3 linked regions of the Homo sapiens genome follow. The protein of the gene in region 3 interacts with the protein of the main gene of each other region in a pairwise test. Each region holds a gene or a part of one and is shown on either strand. Other genes may lie near its edges.

Evidence for each region. Proteins that work in one complex are often made in the same cells at the same time.
Region 1: the proteins of FOXD4L1 (region 3) and PRDM6 interact in binary tests that used the Homo sapiens proteins (3 or more experiments, as listed by UniProt).
Region 2: the proteins of FOXD4L1 (region 3) and HMG20A interact in binary tests that used the Homo sapiens proteins (3 or more experiments, as listed by UniProt).

What each region holds. Positions count from the first base shown.
Region 1 is NC_000005.10:123,095,741-123,099,270, reverse strand, and holds part of PRDM6 (putative histone-lysine N-methyltransferase PRDM6), read right to left. Parts: intron 45-3,530; exon of another isoform or gene 1-44. UniProt on the Homo sapiens protein: Putative histone methyltransferase that acts as a transcriptional repressor of smooth muscle gene expression.
Region 2 is NC_000015.10:77,427,388-77,430,917, forward strand, and holds part of HMG20A (high mobility group protein 20A), read left to right. Parts: intron 1-3,530. UniProt on the Homo sapiens protein: Plays a role in neuronal differentiation as chromatin-associated protein. Acts as inhibitor of HMG20B. Overcomes the repressive effects of the neuronal silencer REST and induces the activation of neuronal-specific genes.
Region 3 is NC_000002.12:113,497,161-113,501,577, forward strand, and holds FOXD4L1 (forkhead box protein D4-like 1), read left to right. Parts: upstream 1-1,504; 5' UTR 1,505-2,096; coding exon 2,097-3,323; 3' UTR 3,324-3,990; downstream 3,991-4,417.

The DNA.
Region 1 (3,530 bases), on a different chromosome or scaffold from region 3:
CTCGTTCCTTCTGACCCTCTCGCCCATTCCTGAGGTTTCTATCTGGAGTTTCAGGATGTGTTTATCCTTGTATTGCGAAAAAAAGCCCGTCTCTTGCCCAATCTGCTGTCTCGAAGAGATTCTATACTGGTCGTCTGGGTATTCAGCTTTCCTCTTTTTACAATTACACAGGAGACGATTTAAAATCACCAGACGGGGCGGGGTGGGGGAGACGGCCAGTCTATCGCGGGTGCCATTCGCACTTCCTTCGACCCAGAGACTCGGAGGCTTCCTCGACTGCCTCCCAAACGCCACGGGACGGGGCAGAGCAAGCCTGCAGCCCGGTAGAGCAGGAGCCGCAGCCCCAGGACTCCAAGGGCGCGCCCGAAATGGGGTCCCTCAAGCGACCAGTCAGTTCTCCCTCCAGGCACTGAAGCAGGGCGGGGACAGGTGGGGCGGGGTGGGGGACCGGGGTGCTGTTCTGGAGGGTTTGGTGTGCACGCTCTCCCTAGACGCCGGAAGAAAGGAATAGCAAATTTAACGATCAGCCTAATTGTTAGAGAAGGCACCAACTCCTGCCCCGACGGCTGTTCTCCAGGCTAAATGCGATTCTGTTGTGCTATACAATGGGTGAAGCTGTAGATAAAGCTGTCTCTCTCCGACACTCTCCAAAGCAGCCTGCGCGAGAGGGACCCCCACCCTCCGGGCCGGGCGGTAGTGGGCGCCCAGTATCCCTCCACTCGAACTGGGCTGGAAGGAGGCAGGCGGCCACGGGAAATAGAGCCTGTGGCGACTGCGCTGTCGGATCGCAGCGCCCTCCGGGTTATTAATGGGCCTGGAGGAGCCGCCGTGTCTGCGCCTCAGCGCGGATGGCCTGCCCCGAGAAGGTGGCCTCGGCGCCCGCCGGCGCGACCCAGCCTCCTTGGCCCAGCTTCCCTGAGGAGCCACGGCGACCCCGCGCAAGTGTCAGGCTTATGGCACTGAGCCTGACACCTGGCGAGTCCCGCCTGGCAGACACGGTGAAAGCTGGCCACTGATGGATGCGCCAGAGCGGGGCGGCGGGTGGCCCTCGGGGCACCCGGGTACCTGCCGCCGCCAGCCTTGGCCGCAGCCAGGCCTGTTGGATCACCCTGGATGTGCCCTATCTGCGCTGAAATGACCGAAATGCCCAAGAAACTTGTGAGTCTGTATGAAACGTTTGTGTCAGGAACAGCTAATCGCAACCCAGCATGGTAAGGGAGCCCTCGATTTGCCATTTGCTTCACAGCAAAGGAGGGCTGACTATGTAAGCCTCCTGTCTCACTGGAGGGGGCTCTAGCCAGCCAAACCTTTGCCTCAGTCAGCAGCTACTCCTCTACTCCTCCCAAGAGAGCTGGAAGAATGAGGGCTGCAAGCTTCTCAGAAATGTCCCCAGACCTCTGAAGTGAAAAGCAACAACTTGTTTCGGAAAGCAGAGAAGTGTCCATGCCGCTGGGCCTCCCTTGCACAAAGGCCCTCTTCTGTCCTTCCTCTGCCAGCAACACAAACTATTGTTAAAATTCTCCCAGACTCTGCTTTTGACCCCAGGGCCTGGATGGGAGTATTCTCACACTTATCCATATGTCAACTCCTCTGAAACACACACACTTCACACACCCTCTCAAGCTTATTGATTGTGAAAATAAAAACTTCAAGACATTTTGGGAATTACATGAAAGACAATAAACACAATTACAGTGCATACCATGTGTCAGACACCTGTCTAGAACCAAAAACCAGCATATTATCTAAGTATCATGATTCCCATTCTGCAGATAAAGCAATTCCCAAGCACTACTACTCCACCAAGAACCAGAAGCTAGAAAGTGGCAGAGAAAGGATTCACAGTCAAGGCTGCCTGACTGCAAGGCCTCTAAACCCAGAGATTTTTAAAAGACTAATGAAAGCTGGGGAAATTTAACATTCAAACTCATGACTCAATTGAATTGAAATATTTCACTGAAGTAACTTTGGGGGCCATGAAAATTGCTGTAGCATGATTGAGTTATAGAGGTTTCTCTCTTTCCCACACTCTTGTGTTTTCGGACATTAAAGTAAGAGATTGGATAGGAAAATACATAGATAATGTCTATAATTTTGAATGTTACTGTCTGACTTCAGAGACAGCCTTTCAGCACCTTTGCAAAAATAGCTAAAAGCAAATGACAATAAGCAAAGGCAATATGCCCATGGAAATAGAAATAAGTCACTCCAGGGAGTTACTTAACTGATTTTTTTTTCTGCTTGACTCAATGATGCAAATGGTCAGAAGAGTGTTTAGTTTTCATTCCCTAGCAGCCTGTGCCAGAGACAGTCAACTTCCAACATGCTTCTCCACACGTGTCATCCCATCAACGACATCAGCATAGGTACCAACTCCAGCCACTACCTCCATAGACAAAAAGCACACTTCTAATATTTGTAATGCATGATAATAAAACTGTGGCTAAGGCCTTTCTCCAAGAAGTCCTCTAAAGCCGTCTTCAACTTATTGTTTCATTTGTCTCCATAAAGAGTTGAAAAACTTAATAGTAGCATTATGCTACTATTAAAAGTGAAAAACTGAGGCTCTCCCAATATCTAGAAGACTATCTGTGTGTTAGGTCCACAGCAGGCTAGACAAAGTCAATCAACTTTAATTAGTCCACCCAACAGGGGTCTTCTTAATTTGTGAACCACTTCATGCTATATCAAAATATTCTGCCAGAAAAGTTGACCAACTGCCATCAAGATACATGTTATATTCCAATGTTATTTTTTAATACACAAAATCCCCCAGCTGAAACATTTGGGTTCTAACTTATGTCTGAGTCTCAGGGTAGCTTGAGGATATTAAAAACAAGTAACATTTCTTGGGATTGACAAATATGCTTAAGAAGACAAACATTCTAGCAGAGTATAAACACCTACATGAAAAGGTTTGAAAGAGAAGCAGGCTATATGAGAGGACCAAACTATGTATAAATGTATATAATATATGTCATTATATTATATATACACACACAGAGCATTCCAAGCCAAGCAATACATAATACAACTACTTAGGTTCCTAACAAGGAAGCAAGTAAATGTTCATACTTTCTCTTAAAATCAGGGGAAGAGTTTTTGTACAAGTTCATAATTGTTATTCATAAATACTCTTCTATCTTGAGTAAATCTGTCAATGCTCCTGTCTAAGCGTCTCTGAGTAAAGGAAGGTGCTGTCATTAGGTTACAGACTTGTTCGCCTCCTGGCATCAGAAGGCCAGGCCAAGTGCAGTTAAGAGCAGACTTTCACTCTTCATTTCCTATCCTTCTGTGTTGTTTCAATGTCTTTAAAGTGCAATAGATCTTTACAATATATCTATTTTAAGGTAAAGGCGGCAAAGCAGGCCATGGTTTTCTTTTCTGGAATTTCATTTCTCGTTCTAGGAAAGGTGAAATATAAAACGCTTCCGGGCTTTTGGTGTGTGGAGAGGCCAACAGTCATGTGTAGGCGCGTGGGGAGTGAGAGCTACATCACATCTTCACTCCCCAGTACCTGCCCGACGCCT
Region 2 (3,530 bases), on a different chromosome or scaffold from region 3:
AATGGTTCTACAAGCATGGGTAGTTCTAGATATGATACCTACATTTCCCTAAAAGATTGTACTGATTTTTAATGATAACAGCAATGTATAAGGATGTTGTTTTCACCACGATTTTACCAGCAAAAATATTTGGCTAGTTGAACACACATAAAATTATTGTTCTCTTTGCTTATAATCTGATAAGTGTTTCCATACCTTGGAACCTGGATCTGTTGGAACATGAAGGAATTCAGGACCCTTATACATGTTACCCCATATGGCTTCTTTAAAGGATATGGATTTTTGAGGATCCTAGAAATCAAAATTCTCTAATTTTATTCAGCTCAAAAAAAAATTTTATTCAGTGCTGCTGTCCTTATTTTCTGAATAATATTCAGATTCAGACCACACTGAGCCATAATTCCAATTCCCACTTGACTAACATTTATGTAGTATTGTGCTAGGCACTACATGTTATCTTAATTCTAATAATTTGGCATTTTTCCATATGAGAAAAATAAGATTTAGAAAGATTAGATTACTTGCCCAAAATCACTTAACCAGTAAGTGGTAGAGACAGGATTTGAATGCAGATCCTCTAAGGCCAGTGTTTATTCTCATACTGCATGATCCCTCAGTATCACTACTAAAATTTACTGGAGGATAATGGAAAGTGGAAAATCTGAACTGGAACTTGGGACAATCAAGCACTGACTTACCTGTGTTCATAATGAAGCATTTAGCAGAGATGTTGTTTGTTGTTTTGTTTTGTTTTTACTGGGGAGGCTATAGTACATAAACAGAGCGAAAGATCTTGGTATGGTTAAACCCACATTTTCAAGGCCTTCTGTGTTCTCCCTGATGATCAGGTACCTACTACCCCAAAATCTGTGATGGTAACAAAGAAGGAGGAAGGCAGCTGTAGAAAAGCAACGGCCTTTGGGTATACCCAGTAAGATTTATGTGATTGTAGAAAGAGCAGGCAAATGGCTTGGCCTTCAGAGAATCCCACAAAGTAAAGTAACCTTTTAAAATAGTAACTTAAAGTCTGACATAAGATTCTTAACAGGATATTCATCACAAGATAAGATATTCAAAGCATAGCGTGTAAGACATTCAAAGCATATCAGCAAAAAAGGAGAGATTCCTTCATTTTTATTGAAGTATGGTATACTCACAAAACAAATTTAATATCAGGAATATAAAACAAGAGATACGATGTTCCAATTCTGGCTTTAGTCGGATATTATAAAATTTAATCCCAATTTATAGATAAGGCAATTCAAGGCTCGAGATTACACACCAAATAAGTGGACTCTAGGCTGGGTGTGGTGGCTTCTGTAATCCCAACACTTTGGGAAGCCAAGGCAGAAGGATCGCCTTAGCTCAGGAGTTTGGGACCGGCTTGGGTAACATAGTGAGATGCTGTCTCTACAAAAAAATAAAAAATAGCCAGACATGGTGGTATATACACATGTGGTCATAGCTACTCAGGAGGCTGAGGCCAGAGGATCGCATAAGCCCAGGAGTTCAAGGCTGTGAGCTGTTATCGAGCCACTGCACTCCAACCTGGGCTACAGAGCAAGACTCTGTCTCAAAAAAAAAAAAAAAGGAGGGGGGAGCCTCTAGAACATAGGCCTTTAATCTGTGTGGTTGTTTTGCAATTTATATGTATAATTTTTAAATAATATGTTGGCCGGGCACAGTGGTTTGTATCTATAATCTCAACACTTTGGGAGGCTGAGACAGGAGGATTGCTTGAGGCCAGGAGTTTGAGACTAACACAGGCAACATAGCAAGACCCCATCTCTACTAAACAAAATAATAATAATTTAATATGGTGGGTTTTTTTGTTTTTTTTGTTTTTTTGAGACGGAGTCTTGCTCTGTCTCCCAGGCTGGAGTGCAGTGGCGCTAGTGAGCTCATGCAATTCTCCTGCCTCAGCCTCCCAAGTAGCTGGGATTACTAGCGCTTGCCTGCTTCAAAAGAAATGATTTCCAGCACCCCATTTTTTCTTTTCCAGCCTCAAAATTCATATCTCCTTTTTTTCCCCCATGTCCACATGTCCTTCATTCCTATACTTCATAGCTTTAATTCCTGTTCTCTTGATACAAACCTTCATGTTTGTTGCTTGATGGCATCATAATTATCATAACTTTTTGGCTTAATAACAGTAGCAGTTATATCAACAAATAATAAAATGTTCATACTTTTGAGCCAATAATTCCACATATAGAACTTCATTCTGAGAAAATACTTTAAATAAGAAAAATAGTTAAAGGCACAAAATGTTAATAGCACTGATATCTATACTGTCTAAAACTTGAAACCTTCTAAATATTCAACAATATAATAATGCCTAAGCAAATTATTGCCTATCTACTCAGTGGGCTGTAAGACATTCATTTTTCACAATAGCGTCTTTAAGAATACATTGAAAGATGTTGTAAGAATGTTTTTGCAAAAATGAAAAGGAGAAACATCAGAAGAAAAAGTAGAAAAACTAATGTGATTGGTGTCTATTTCTGAAGCATTTATATTTTCTATATAATAATAATTTACATTTACTGACCACTTACTTGTGTCAGGAACAATACTCAAGCAACATTATAGAAGCAACAATTTGTAGTTATTGAAAACTGGTGTTCTAGAATCAAATCTGAGCTTCATCACTTACTAATATGTGGTCTTGAAAAGGAAATGGAGGATAACTATGTCTACATTAAATTATTAAATCTATATAAAGTATTTGGCACATACAAAACCTACAATAAGAATGTTTTTGTTATCAGACATTTTATAAATATGTCTCATTTAATCTTCACATCCTCACAGTAACCTCATTAGATAGTGTTAACGTTCATTTTACATGAAAGAAAATTGAAACTTCAAATGTTTAAATACTCTAGGTTAAATAACTTGCCGAATCACTTAACTAATAAGCAGTAGAGTTTTTATTCAGAGCCCAAGCTATGGTTTCCACTTATGACTCTGAGAGATGAGGTTGCTGCAGACTAATGCTTTTGCTAAGAACAGGAAAGATGAGAATTAAAAAGAAAAGTGAAGGCATCAGAGACCTGCTGAGGCATCCAGGACTTAAGAAACCACAACCATAGAACCAAAGGAGCTTCAGAGAAGTGGGCTGATGTTCCATGCTTCTCTTTTTTCCTAGGAATTTGCTAATTCTTAGAGCATGACAAGATGCTGTGAAACTTAGCAGAGGGTTTCTTCTAAAAGCAGAGAAGCTGTTAGTTTTATGGGGCGGAGCAGACAAAACTTGGATTTTAGAGATCTCCAGGTAGCTAGTTCTTGGGTCAAGATCCCTAGAGAAGGACAGTACCCAGAAACTTTTTTAAAACTTGTTTTCCCCTCACAGTGTTTGCTAGGCAGAGTCTAGAACTGTAAGAAAGTTAATTTGTATTGCTTTAAGCCAATAGCTTTGGATAACTTGTGACAGCAACAATATGAAACTATTACAGAGACATGAGGAAATGATGAAGAAGTCTAACATACATATGACTGGAGGAGAGAAAGTTAGAAGCAGTAATATT
Region 3 (4,417 bases):
TGCCCTTGCAGTTGGCGTTTGATTTCTCACTGAACATTCGTTGTCATAATTATAGACACTATGTGACTATCAAGGGCATAATATTCTTTCATGCTGCATTTTTATTAGATGGCACCTCAAAGTTTTCCCAAGTAGGTGGGTTTTAAATTATGAATATATACCGTGGCATAGTATCTTACTTAGTATTTTAATAAGATCCTTATTTATATAACAAATATTTTTTTTATTCCTCTGTAGTGCTACTTTAGTCTCTGAGCTAATTTTCATGAAGCCAATCTAAAAATCGTGTTACTTCTAAGGATGTGGAGCGAGTGAGATGAACAGTTGTGCTGTCATATTGCCCCTCCCCAGTGCAGACAGTGAATGAGGACCCACTGATTTAAAGGCAACACTGCAGCCCCTTCTTGCCTCATTGAAGTCCCAAGTTTTATTACAGTAAAAGCACTTAATGTTGACATTTCTGAAAGAATGAAGAGGCCGGGCGCGGTGGCTCACGCCTGTAATCCCAGCACTTTGGGAGGCTGAGGCAAGCGGATCATGAGGTCAGGACATCGAGACCATCCTGGCTAACACGGTGAAACCCCGTCTCTACTAAAAATACAAAAAAATTAGCCGGGCGTAGTGGCGGGCGCCTGTGGTCCCAGCTACTCGGGAGGCTGAGGCGGGAGAATGGCGTGAACCCGGGAGGCGGAGCTTGCAGTGGTCCGAGATTGTGTCACTGCACTCCAGCCTGGGCGACAGAGCGACAACGTCTCAAAAAAAAAAAAAAAAAAAAAAAGGAAAAAAAGAATGAAGAGCCAGAGCCAGGCATAGTGGCACGCCTGTAGTCCCACCTACTCAGGAGGCTGAGGCGGGAGGATCACTTGAGCCCAGGAATTCAAAGCCAGCCTGTGCAACATAGACCCTGTCTCTAAAAATGAATTGGTTATAAAGGATGAAGAAAGGAAGGAGGAAAGGGAGAGAGAGAAGCCCTTATAGAGTGGGTGCATTTCTTGTATGTGGGGCCACTTTGTAAGAACAGGATTTTTCAAACTGGGCCCATACTGGTATGTGTGAAATCAATTTAGTTGGTTATGGCCATTTTTTTTTAAAAGGAAATATCAGTGATCACTATAGTGTAAGTATATTGTTTCGTGAAAGCCATCTTAGTTATGTATTATGTCTGTATGTGTAAGATTGTGATATAAAATGTATTTCTGTGGTTAAATATTCAAAGAAATTGGAGAACCATTGCTACAAGGGGACAGAGGACTCCGTGTGAGCTCTCCTGCCTTCCCTGAATAAACTTACACAATTTAGTGCTGGGACATTTGAACCTTTTCTGAAAATTTGAGTCAGGGGAGAGCATCTTGGGGAGGTGGGAAGGAAGGTAGAAGGAGCAAAGCAACACCCCCCTGAAGCCTGGGAATATTGTCAGAACCTTAAATATAATTCAGCTCACCATTCTGGGTAAGGACAGACTCTACCAATGAAAATGGGTGATTACCAGCTGTGAAACACAAAAACATACTTTTACGGTTACACATTCCTTTACAAACAACCGTGTACATTTCAGCCTCCTGCCCCACCATTTCTTTTCTCCAGGAGGGAAGGCTGCATGTCGAGATGGTCGTAGAATGTTGAGTATCCTACTTTCCTACCTCGCTTTTATTTGCGCGGGTTTAAATGCGCCTTAACAGAACCCGTGCAAAGGCTTGCCTACTTGTCTGGCTGCACCGGATGAGTAGAGCATCTTCCTTGGTGGCAGGTGGGTGCGAGGAGGAGGGGGCTGGGCTTTTCTCCGGACGGTGTTTGCCCAGAAGACCATCATCCCTGGACTACGTTAGGAGGAAGTGGCACCGCTCCGAGGTAGGGGAAGAAGGGTTATAAAGGGGGGAGTCCACCACACATGGTCTTGAAGAAGCTTTTATAAAAGGCAAAGGCATCTTTGCCGGACGTTGTTGCAAAGGAGTAGAAACAAGCAGAGGAAAACATCCCAAAGGGTAACCACTAGCGTTCCTGCTTCTTGCAACATTCATCCCAGGCTTCCAGCTCAGCCCGCCCCGGGCCAGGTGATCGGCCGCCACATCCCCTGCGACTGAAGCACCTGCTCCGCCATGAACCTGCCAAGAGCTGAGCGCCCTCGCTCCACACCGCAGCGCAGCCTCCGGGACTCCGATGGGGAAGACGGTAAAATCGATGTCCTGGGAGAGGAGGAAGATGAAGACGAGGTGGAAGACGAGGAGGAGGAGGCGAGCCAGAAGTTCCTAGAGCAGTCGCTCCAGCCGGGGCTGCAGGTGGCCCGGTGGGGCGGGGTTGCGCTTCCCCGAGAGCACATCGAGGGCGGCGGCCCGAGCGACCCCTCAGAGTTTGGCACCGAGTTCAGGGCACCGCCAAGGTCTGCGGCGGCCTCTGAAGATGCCCGGCAGCCGGCAAAGCCCCCCTACTCGTACATCGCGCTCATCACCATGGCCATCCTGCAAAGCCCGCACAAGCGCCTCACGCTCAGCGGCATCTGCGCCTTCATTAGTGGCCGCTTCCCCTACTACCGCCGCAAGTTCCCCGCCTGGCAGAACAGCATCCGCCACAACCTCTCGCTGAACGACTGCTTCGTCAAGATCCCCCGCGAGCCGGGCCACCCAGGCAAGGGCACCTACTGGAGCCTGGACCCCGCCTCCCAGGACATGTTCGACAATGGCAGCTTTCTCCGGCGTAGGAAGCGTTTCAAGCGCCACCAACTGACCCCGGGAGCCCACCTGCCCCACCCCTTCCCTCTACCTGCTGCACACGCCGCCCTGCACAACCCCCGCCCAGGCCCTCTGCTTGGGGCCCCTGCCCTGCCGCAGCCAGTCCCGGGGGCCTACCCCAACACCGCCCCCGGGAGACGCCCTTACGCTCTGCTGCACCCGCATCCTCCTCGCTACCTACTGCTCTCGGCCCCCGCCTATGCCGGGGCACCGAAGAAAGCAGAAGGCGCGGACCTGGCGACCCCCGGCACCCTTCCCGTGCTGCAGCCCTCACTTGGTCCTCAGCCTTGGGAGGAGGGCAAGGGTCTGGCGTCGCCACCGGGAGGCGGATGCATCTCTTTCAGCATTGAGAGTATCATGCAAGGGGTCAGGGGAGCGGGTACAGGGGCTGCGCAGAGTTTGTCCCCGACCGCGTGGAGCTACTGCCCCCTGCTCCAGCGACCGTCAAGCCTGTCGGACAATTTTGCAGCAACAGCAGCAGCATCAGGAGGAGGACTGCGCCAACGGCTGCGCTCCCACCAAGGGCGCGGTGCTGGGCGGGCACCTGTCGGCCGCGTCGGCGCTGCTGCGGTATCAGGCGGTGGCAGAGGGCTCTAGGCTGACATCGCTGGCTGCCCCTTTGGGCGGAGAGGGGACCTCACCAGTTTTTTTAGTATCGCCCACGCCCAGTTCCCTGGCCAAGTCCGCAGGGCCCTCCTAGAGCCAGGTGGGAGTGGGGAGCGATCCGCAGCTGCTCACTCCACCTTGCGCGGCCCATACTGGGCGTGTGCATCTGAATCCTGCTGGAGAGCAAACACGAACTTCTGTTCCCTGCAAAATGGTTAGAAAGAAACAGCTGGATTACGTTCCTCTAAAAACCACCTGAACGTAACCTTCGCAGGGCGTCAAGTCATCTTTTCTTGCCTTCGGCTGTGGCTTCTGTGGCTTTCCGGATTTGCACATTTCCTGGGGTACTATGAACGTGAGTGGGGTATTTTGTTCTGGCATTAGAAGAAAAACAAGCAAGCAAACAAAAACACAGCCTCCGATGCCAAACATGTTCCCCCTTCTTCACTTCCTTGGAACTGGAAGTGTTATTCCTAAGTCTAGTGCAAAATGCTTCTACTCTCTGTGTCTTCCTGATAGGGATGTTTAATGTAAGTAGGATATTAATTTCAGAACATTGATTTCTTATCTGTGTGTCTGACGTGCCATCTTTAATGTTAAAATTAAGGTGTTAAAATTAAGCCTAGTTATATAGACGAAATAAAATGCTAAGTCACTACACTACATCGTTATTTTCTATTACGTCTCATTCTTCCCTTTCTAAATGGAACTTTTTAAAACCTACATTATTTTCCCTCAAACAATTTATTTTCACAATTCATATTTATTATAGATAGCAGAAGTAATCCATTTTAATATGGCCTTTAAAAATTCCAAATATTTGAGGTTGAAAATGTCCTGGCTTTTAAAATAGGAAATTTACTATTTATGAGACTTCTAAAAGAAAAGAATAGGAGGGCATGTAAATATATTCTCCATTTATTTTTCCTCACCCCCCAACAAGCTGGAAAACCGTTTGAGATCAATTTGGAATGTAGTGGCCAACATGTACTCAGGGAAAATAAAAGGCTATAAATGTACATATATATATATATATATATATACATTTTTTAAGCACTAGAATTTTCAAAACTTATTTCTTAAAA